Homo sapiens: one gene and its partner. The protein of the gene in region 2 purifies or fractionates together with the protein of the main gene of each other region. This does not show direct contact. Each region holds a gene or a part of one and is shown on either strand. Other genes may lie near its edges.

Region 1 (4,429 bases), on a different chromosome or scaffold from region 2:
ATTCTGGAATGTTGTACATCTGAATATGGCACACAGAATCCTTTGTTCCCAGCAGGGAATCTACTTCACCACTGTAACTGAACACACTGACATTTTTGCTAAAACTTATGTCTACCGTAAGCTCAAGATTATTGGAAGAACATTCTAGGACTCCACAGAGAACTGAAACTTTGTGGTATTGGAGTTGAAATGAAAATGATAAAGCCCGAATCCACCTAGTTTTTATCAAATTTAAGGCATTGTTATTCCATTTTGTGCCAAAATGGCTTATATCACTTATTTAGTACTTCATGTCTGAAGTTCTCTTTCAAATTACAATCCACGACTAAGATGAAACAAAATGTTTTAGCTCAAAATTTTTAGCTGAACTAGGCAAAACTGACAATAAGTTCATACTGCTAGATAGCCACTCTCAAGCCTTCATACTAGCAGAACAGATTCAGAGATTCAGAATGCAACTAGATAACCGGTTGGTTACATTTTGTAACGCCATCATTTTCTTAGCACAATTTTATAGAGTTAAAATTGAAAATCTGTTTTACTTCAGCACTTCTATCATTGAGTAATAAAGCACTATTAGAAATACCAATACCAGCGCAGGGGCTCCCCCGCCTGTAATCTCAGCACTTTGGGAGGCCAAGGTAGGTGGATCACATGGGGCCGGGAGCTTGAGACCAGCCTGGCCAACAGGGCAAAACCCCGTCTCTATTAAAAATACAAAAAATAGCCAGGCGTGATGGTGCACATCTGTAATCCCAGCTACTTGGGAGGCTGAGGCATGAGAATCACTTAAACCCAGGAAGCAGAGGTTGCAGTGAACCAAGATTGTGCCACTGCACTCCAGCCTGGGCGACAGAGTGAGACTCTGTCTCAAAAAAAAGAAAGAAATATCACAGGAGAAAAAAACTTAAGTAGAATAAATACAATCAGATACACCATCCTCTACACCAAAAACTGTGGAATACACATCCTAACAGGTGTGCACAGAACATTCACCAAGAAAGAACAGATGTTGGGCCATAAAATAAGGCTCAACAAATTTGAAAAGACTGACATCTTTCAGGGTCTGACCACCTGGAATTATAAATCAGTTAAAATCTTTTTCACATCTCCAAATAGGTGGAAACTATATAACATACTTCTAAATAACTCATGTGTTAAAGAGAAAAACAAGGAAGCGGGGTGCCGGGGGCTCAGGCCCATAATCCCAGCACTTTGGAAGGCTGAGGCAGGTGGATCACCTGAGGTCGGGAGTTTGGGACCAGCCTGACCAACATGGAGAAACCCCATCTCTACTAAAAATACAAAATTAGCTGGGCGTGGTGGTGCATGCCTATAATCCCAGCTACTCGGGAGGCTGAGGCAAGAGAATTGCTTGAACCCGGGAGGCAGAGGTTGCAGTGAGCAGAGATAGTGCCACTGCACTCCAGCCTGGGCAACAAGAGCGAAACCCCATCTCAAAAAAAAAAAAAAAAAAAATGAAGGGAAATTAGAAAATACTTCTAACAAAATGGTAACAAAAATACAATGCCAAAACTTACGGGATGCAACTAAAGAACTGTTTCGAGGGAAATTTATAATTTCAAATGCCTACATTTGAAAAGAAGAGTTTAAAAATTAAGCATTCATCTTGAGAAACTAAAGCAAGTGCAAATTATAGTCAAAGAAAGCATAAAAAGAAATGAATTAAATAGAAAAGAGACAATAAAGACAAATGCCCTCCAACTTATTTCTTTTGCTAAAGTGTCTGATTATTCCTTTTGATAATAATAATAATAATTATTATTATTATTATTTATTTCCTGGTTCCAGATTGTGTCTTTATTCCTCTTTCTGACAGACAGCAGAGCATTTGTCTGGCATATATTCTCTCTTACCACAATATAGATGATTTTCTGTGACTTTAACAATACATACAAGAAAAAAATCACATCTTTATGCCAATACCATTCTTTCACAATACTAGAAGAACAGATTCAGAGTACAATTACATAACTGGTTGGTTACATTTTGCATCCAGTGAGTAACACCATCATCTTCTTAGTTTCTATATCTATTTATTTATTTATTTATTTATTTATTTATTTATTTATTTATTTTTGAGACCAAGTCTTGCTGTGTTGCCCAGGCTGGAGTGCAGTAGCACGAACTCGGCCTCTTCAGTAGCCAGTACCACAGGCGTGCACCACCATGCCTGGCTAATGTTTTTTGTATTTTTAGTAGAGACAGGATTTCACTATGTTGCCCAGGCTGGTCTCGAACTCCTGGCCTCAAGTGATGCGTCCGCCGTATCTCAAAATAATAAGAGCTATTTATGACAAACCCACAGCCAATATCATACTGAATGGACAAAAACTGGAAGCATTCCCTTTGAAAACTGGCGCAAGACAGGGATGCCCTCTCTCACCACTCCTATTCAACACAGTGTTGGAAGTTCTGGCCAGGGCAATCAGGCAGGAGAAAGAAATAAAGGGTATTCAATTAGGAAAAGAGGAAGTCGAATTATCCCTGTTTGCAGATGACATGATTGTACATGTAGAAAACTCCATCGTCTCAGCCCAAAATCTCCTTAAGCTGATAAGCAACTTCAGCAAAGTCTCAGGATACAAAATCAATGTGCAGAAATCACAAGCATTCCTATACATCAATAACAGACAAAGAGAGAGCCAAATCATGAGTGAACTCCCATTCACAATTGCTACAAAGAGAATAAAATACCTAGGAATCCAACTTACAAGGGATGTGAAGGACCTCTTCAAGGAGAACTACAAACCACTGCTCAACCAAGTAAAAGAGGACCAAACAAATGGAAGAACATTCCATGCTCATGGATGGGAAGAATCAATATTGTGAAAATGGCCATACTGCCCAAGGTAATTTATAGATTCAATGCCATCCCCATCAAGCTACCAATGACTTTCTTCACAGAATTGGAAAAAACTACTTTAAAGTTCATATGGAACCAAAAAAGAGCCTGCATTGCCAAGACAACCCTAAGCCAAAAGAATAAAGCTGAAGGCATCACCCTATCCAACTTCAAACTATACTACAAGGCTACAGTAACCAAAACAGCATGCTACTGGTACCAAAACAGAGATACAGACCAATGGAACAGAACAGAGCCCTCAGAAATAATACCACACATCTACAACCATCTGATCTTTGACAAACCTGACAAAAAGAAGAAATGGGGAAAGGATGCCCTATTTAATAAATGGTGCTGGGAAAACTGGCTAGCCATATGTAGAAAGCTGAAACTGGATCCCTTCCTTACACCTTATACAAAAGTTAATTCAAGATGGATTAAAGACTTAAATGTTAGACCTAAAACCAGAAAAACCCTAGAAGAAAACCTAGGCAATACCATTCAGGACATAGGCATGGGCAAGGACTTCATGACTAAAACACCAAAAGCAATGGCAACAAAACTCAAAATTGACAAATGGGATCTAATTAAAGAGCTTCTGCACAGCAAAAGAAACTACCATCAGAGTGAATAGGCAACCTACAGAATGGGAGAAAATTTTTACCATCTACCCATCTGACAAAGGGCTAATATCCAGAATCTACAAAGAACTTAAACAAATTTCCAAGAAAAAATCAAACAATCCCATCAAAAAGTGGGCAAAGGATATGAACAGACACTTCTCAAAAGAAGACATTCATGCAGCCAACAGACACATGAAAAAATGCTCATCATCACTGGCCATCAGAGAAATGCAAATCAAAACCACAATGAGATACCATCTCACACCAGTTAGAATGGCGATCATTAAAAAGTCGGAAACAACAGGTGCTGGAGAGGATGTGGAGAAATAGGAACACTTTTACACTGTTGGTGGGACCGTAAACTAGTTCAACCATTGTGGAAGACAGTGTGGTGATTCCTCAAGGATCTAGAACTAGAAATACCATTTGACCCAGCCATCCCATTACTGGGTATATACCCAAAGGATTATAAATCATGCTGCTATAAAGACACATGCACACGTACATTGACTGCAGCACTATTTACGATAGCAAAGACTTGGAACCAACCCAAATCAATGATAGACTGGATTAAGAAAATGTGGCACATATACACCATGGAATACTATGCAGCCAAAAAAAGGATGAGTTCATGTCTTTTGTAGGGACATGGATGAAGCTGGAAACCATCATTCTGAGAAAACTATCACAAGGACAGAAAACCAAACACTGCATGTTCTCACTCATAAGTGGGAACTGAACAATGAGAACACCAGGACACAGGGTGGGGAACATCACACACTGGGGCCTGTTGTGGGGTGGGGGGAGAGGGGAGGGATAGCATTAGGAGATATACCTAATGTAAATGACGAGTTAACGGGTGCAGCACACCAACATGGCACATGTATACATACGTAACAAACCTGCATGTTGTGCACATGTACCCTAGAACTTAAAGTAT
Region 2 (4,730 bases):
TGATAATGCTGATGCTGATGCAGGAAGTCCTGGTCCAGAGCCTGGTGGCCAAGGGCTGTTGCCTGGCAACCGCCTCGGAGAGACAAGTTCAAGGTAAAGCCTCTGGTCTGAGCAACTTCAATGGCTGGAGGAGGAGGAGAGGAGTGGGCAAGGTGCGTTATCATCACTCCTCCCTCCCTGCTCCTGCTCACAACTGCAGAGCCTCCCCTCACCCTACAGCCCCAATGGCTCCCCTAACCCACAGATTCTAGCCCCAACCCCATACAAGCTCCTTCAGTACCCCTGCCCCTTATCACTCATTTATTCAGAGGCACCATGCTGTAGCTTCACAGGAGGTTACAGGAACAGCGTGTACAGTACCCCCTGCAGTTGTGACATGCAGTGGCCCCCTTTGTTCATTCATTCCAGATACTCCTAAGAAAGGCCACGGCAGCACTGCCAGGCCCGGGGAACGCAAGGCTGCCAGACACACGTGTGTGGGGGGACAAGCACATGCACACACAGGCTGCACGTGAGCATGCACAGGCGGGGACACCCAGTGTGGTGGGGAAGCAAGGGCTGCCGGGGCTAGGTGAGGGACCCTACCCAGGCAGCCACTCCCACCCAACGCTGGGGCCCCAGCAGTTCCTCCACTCCCACCACTTGCACACCGGCCGCATGTCACACCTCAGTGCCCATTCACTCACGGACGCAGCTAAGATGTCCCGACCACCTACTGTGCACCCTGCACTGGGCTCACACAAACCTGGACACACAATATCACACCCAGCAAAGGCAGCCACACACAGCAAACCCCACACACACCCAGACCCGCATGTTGTTGGTTGCTGGTGCCTGGCCCACCTCCCCTAGCCATTAGTAGGCTGTCCCTGACCCACCCCTGCCCCACAGGCCAGGCCAGAGTGTCCATCACAGTGCCCTACCTTCTCTCTGGCTGGAAATGTAGGCACATGACCCGCACCTGGCCAACCATGGCACCCTATCACCACGTCTTTGGTGATTGGCCCAAGGGACCATCATGTGACCTAGTTGGAGCCAATCCACTTTCTTCCCTGAAATCTGCTATTTGGATAATAGGGAGAAAGGACATCTACTGCTTTTGGATCAAGGTCTATAAGGATGTGGGCTCAGCCCCATCAAGGGTATCTTCCATGTTCCCTGAAGGACCTGGACTCTGGGAGGTCACACCCGAACAGGCCAGGGTGCACGGAGCCCACACACACCTACACATTCACACCCATCAGGACACAGTGTCTGGCGGAGAAATTGGCCCAGGCCACAGCTGTTATCAGGTGTCACCGTCTTTATTGACAAGAGCTAGAGACAGAAGCAGCAAAGGGTTTCCTAACTGGCCTCCCAGGGACCATTCTAGGACATTACTCTCCTGTCCTAGGCAGCAAGAAGGCAGGATCAGCCAGAGAAGGCCAGAAGGCCAGGGCATCCTTCCTCCCTTGGACCCTCAGATCTTCCTCAAGAAACCCCAGACCAAGTCCCAGGGCCGGGCCTCCAGCCTCCATCTCCACACAAAATGTGGTTTTGTAAACTTCCTTCTCTTCTGATGGTCCCACACTCTCCCCAAGCCCTGCCTCCCTAACCCTTGGCCTCTGACCCCCCAACTGCCCATTTCTCATGGCCTACAGTGTCCTCACCCCAAAGGACAGACACAGAGAGGCCACTTGATGGAGAGGGGGGTATAGGCCAAGCCTGGGGGTGAGGAGGGCACCCCCACTTTATAATCTGATACACCCCACCGTACCCATTGCAGTGAGCCTGGAAGTTACCTCACATGACTCATTTTCTCGTTAGATCCCAGGAGGCAGCCAAGCTGGGATTCATCTCCATTTGTTGATGGGGAAATTGAGGCCCGGAAGGCCAATGCCAGCCCAGGACCCTGAGGTGTGCTGAAGATCCAAGTCTCCAAAAGTCTGGTTCCTGTGCTTTCCCTGAGGACCCCTGCCCTCTGCAAGGGGTGGGGAAGCGGAAGGATTTCACCGGGGGTCTCACCCTCCCAGGGCCAGCCTCACCACAGCTCTGAGGGACCATCTCTGGGAGGGAGTCTAGGCCCAGCCTTGGATGGTGGCTGCTCCCCATGGTCCCCCTCCACAGTCCCACTTCAGCCTCTTCTTGTCTTCCCTGGGCCTCCCGACCTGTAGTCTCCAGGATGATAGAGCATGGGGAGGGAGCTCCCCAGTCCTCCCAATGTCCCTGGTAGCCAGCTCCACCCTAGGGCTTTATTAAGGCCTGAGCCCTCTTGGCAGCACTCTGAGGCCCCTCAGGGACGCAGGCCCTGTGCCTGTCTGTACTCTGTGCATTTGCCATTGCACCCTGGCTGTTCCACCCTGATCGTGTCCTTCCCTCAGTACTGGTTGGGTGGGGCTGTTGTCGGCAACTCAGGTTCACAGATGCTACCACTGAGCTCAGCCCAGGGGGGCCAAAGACGGCTCCAGGAAACAGATCTGTACTTCTCCTTCCCCCTCCTCATCCTCCCCTTTCCCCCTTGTCTTCCTCTTCCTTCTCCTTCCTCTTCCTCTTCTCCCTTCCTCTTCCTTCTCCTCACAGCGCTCTTCAGACACTCTGCCTTTCCATGCCAGTCCTCATGGGCTGGGTCCCTGTCTCGGTCTCCAGGAAGGGAGAATATGGGTCACAAGGAGAGGAACAGGGATGGCCCTTCCTACAAGGAGGTGCCTGGAAGCCCTCAAAAGACCTGGGAACCCCCGGGGGCCCCTACTCCAGCCATAAGACCCAACATGAGCTTCCTTGGGGATTGGGTGGCTGACCTCAGCAGGGGCAGAGCCAGGCTTTGGGTGGCCTAAGCTTATGCAGTTCGAGGTCCCTCTTTAAGAAAACGAATACAAAATGACAAGTACAAAAGTAGATGCAGGGCCTTGCAAAAGCCCAGGCAGTGAGAGACCCTGAAGCTGGACTTCATTCGCTTCCATGAGCAGGAAATTCACCTGCTCTTCCCGTCCAGGAGCACAGGACCTCCAGCATTGACTGCCTGGGCCAAAAGGGTGTAGAGGTTGTTGGGTTTTACCCAGGTGAAGCCTGAGGCCTAGAGAGGAGCAGAGCTGGTCCAAGGCCTCACAGTCGAGGGGAGGGAGCTGATCTGGGGCCTGACCATTTCTGCCCCACTCCTCCCACCGGGTTAGGCTTTCTTCTGTTTAGGTTTCCAGCCCAGCCCCCAGCAGCTCCTGTGTTCCTGACTCTGAGCCCAAGAAATCCTGGCCTTGGTTTATCCCTCTGAGGGCCAAGATTCTAGTTGATGCCCCAAGACACTCCATCCCTGGGGGGAGGCCAGTCTGCACCCACCTTTTGCCTGCTCAGCCAGGTCAGCCCAGCAACAGTGCCCTCCAAACCTCTCATCTGACATAGCTCATCCAGGCTGATGACTCCTATCCCTGAGTCACAGAGGAGAAAACAAGGCCCAGAGAGTAGAAGCAACCTACCCAAGGTCACACAGCAAGACCTGGCAGCAATAGCATCAAAGTCCAGGCCCCTCAACATCCCATCATGGGCCTGTGGCACCTTGGGAAGTAGGCCCTAGGCACACCCACGGCTTCTGCCTCTTCCTCGGGCCATCCTGGCTTTCCCCAGGCCCCTACAGGTAGCTGATGCGCATCGTGCTGGACTTCTCCCCAGTGGAAGCCTCTTGGGGTAGGAGCTGCTGCTCCTTGCTGGCCACTCTGCTGGGCGGCCGCTCCTGCCCGCTGGTGCCAGGCTGCGTGATCTGGCTGACCCGGCCGTTCATCTCCTTCCCCTTGCCCCCCTCCCTGCTCTCCTCCCCATCCTCCTCCTCCTCATCCTCCTCCTCAGTCTTCTCCGGGGGCCCCACAGTGGGCTCCTGGCTGCGCACACGGCGGGAGGGCCGCAGCAGGACCCTGCGGAAGCCCTGCTTGAAGCGGTAGGAGAGGAAGCCATAAAGGATGGGGTTGGCACAGCTGTTGGCATAGGGCAGCGCCACCACCAGGAAGTAGAGCCCAAAGAAGGCAGGCTCCTCGGGCAGTGGGCACACCACGTTGACGATGTTGAGCACGTAGAAGGGCATCCAGCAGAGCACGAAGAGCGCCACCACGGCCACCACCATGCGCGTGACCCTGCGTTCGGAGCGCCGCCGCCGCTGGCACGAGGGTGCCCACACCCGGCGCCCAGCTGAGCGCACCTTCACCACGATGAGCAGGTAGCAGAGGCAGATGACCAGCAGCGGCCCGAAGAAGCCCAGTGCGGCCGTGTAGATGATGAAGCCGGCTCGCCAGGCCGCCGCCGGCTCGGGCCACTGCATGTGGCAGGTGCTCATGCCGCGGGGCACTCCCGAGAAGACCACCACGGGCAGCACCACCACGGCTGAGGCCACCCACACAGCCGCGCTGACCGTGCGGGCCACCGGAGCTGTGCGCCAGCGGGCCGAGCGGGTGGGATGTACCACGGCCAGGTAGCGGTCCACGCTCATGACAGTCAGGCAGAATATGCTGGTGAACTGGTTGATGCCATCCACCGCCATGACCAGGCGGCACATGAGGGAGCCGAAGGGCCAGTAGGACAGGGCGTTCTGGGCGGCCAGGAAGGGCAGCCCCAGCATGAAGAGCTCGTCGGCCAGCGCCAGGTTGAGGATGTAGACGTTGGTGACTGAAGGGCTGGCCGTGTGCCGCAGGACCACATAGATGACCAGCGAGTTACCCAGCAGGCCCACCACGCACACCACCAGGTAGACCAGGGGGATCAGAACGCCACTG

The links. The genes of interacting proteins can lie anywhere in the genome.
Region 1: the proteins of SSTR3 (region 2) and PALS1 purify together in Homo sapiens (pull-down; one study listed by IntAct). This does not show direct contact.

What each region holds. Positions count from the first base shown.
Region 1 is NC_000014.9:67,327,506-67,331,934, reverse strand, and holds part of PALS1 (protein PALS1), read right to left. Parts: intron 1-4,429. UniProt on the Homo sapiens protein: Plays a role in tight junction biogenesis and in the establishment of cell polarity in epithelial cells.
Region 2 is NC_000022.11:37,202,949-37,207,678, forward strand, and holds the end of SSTR3 (somatostatin receptor type 3), read right to left. Parts: coding exon 3,599-4,730; 3' UTR 1,289-3,598; downstream 1-1,288.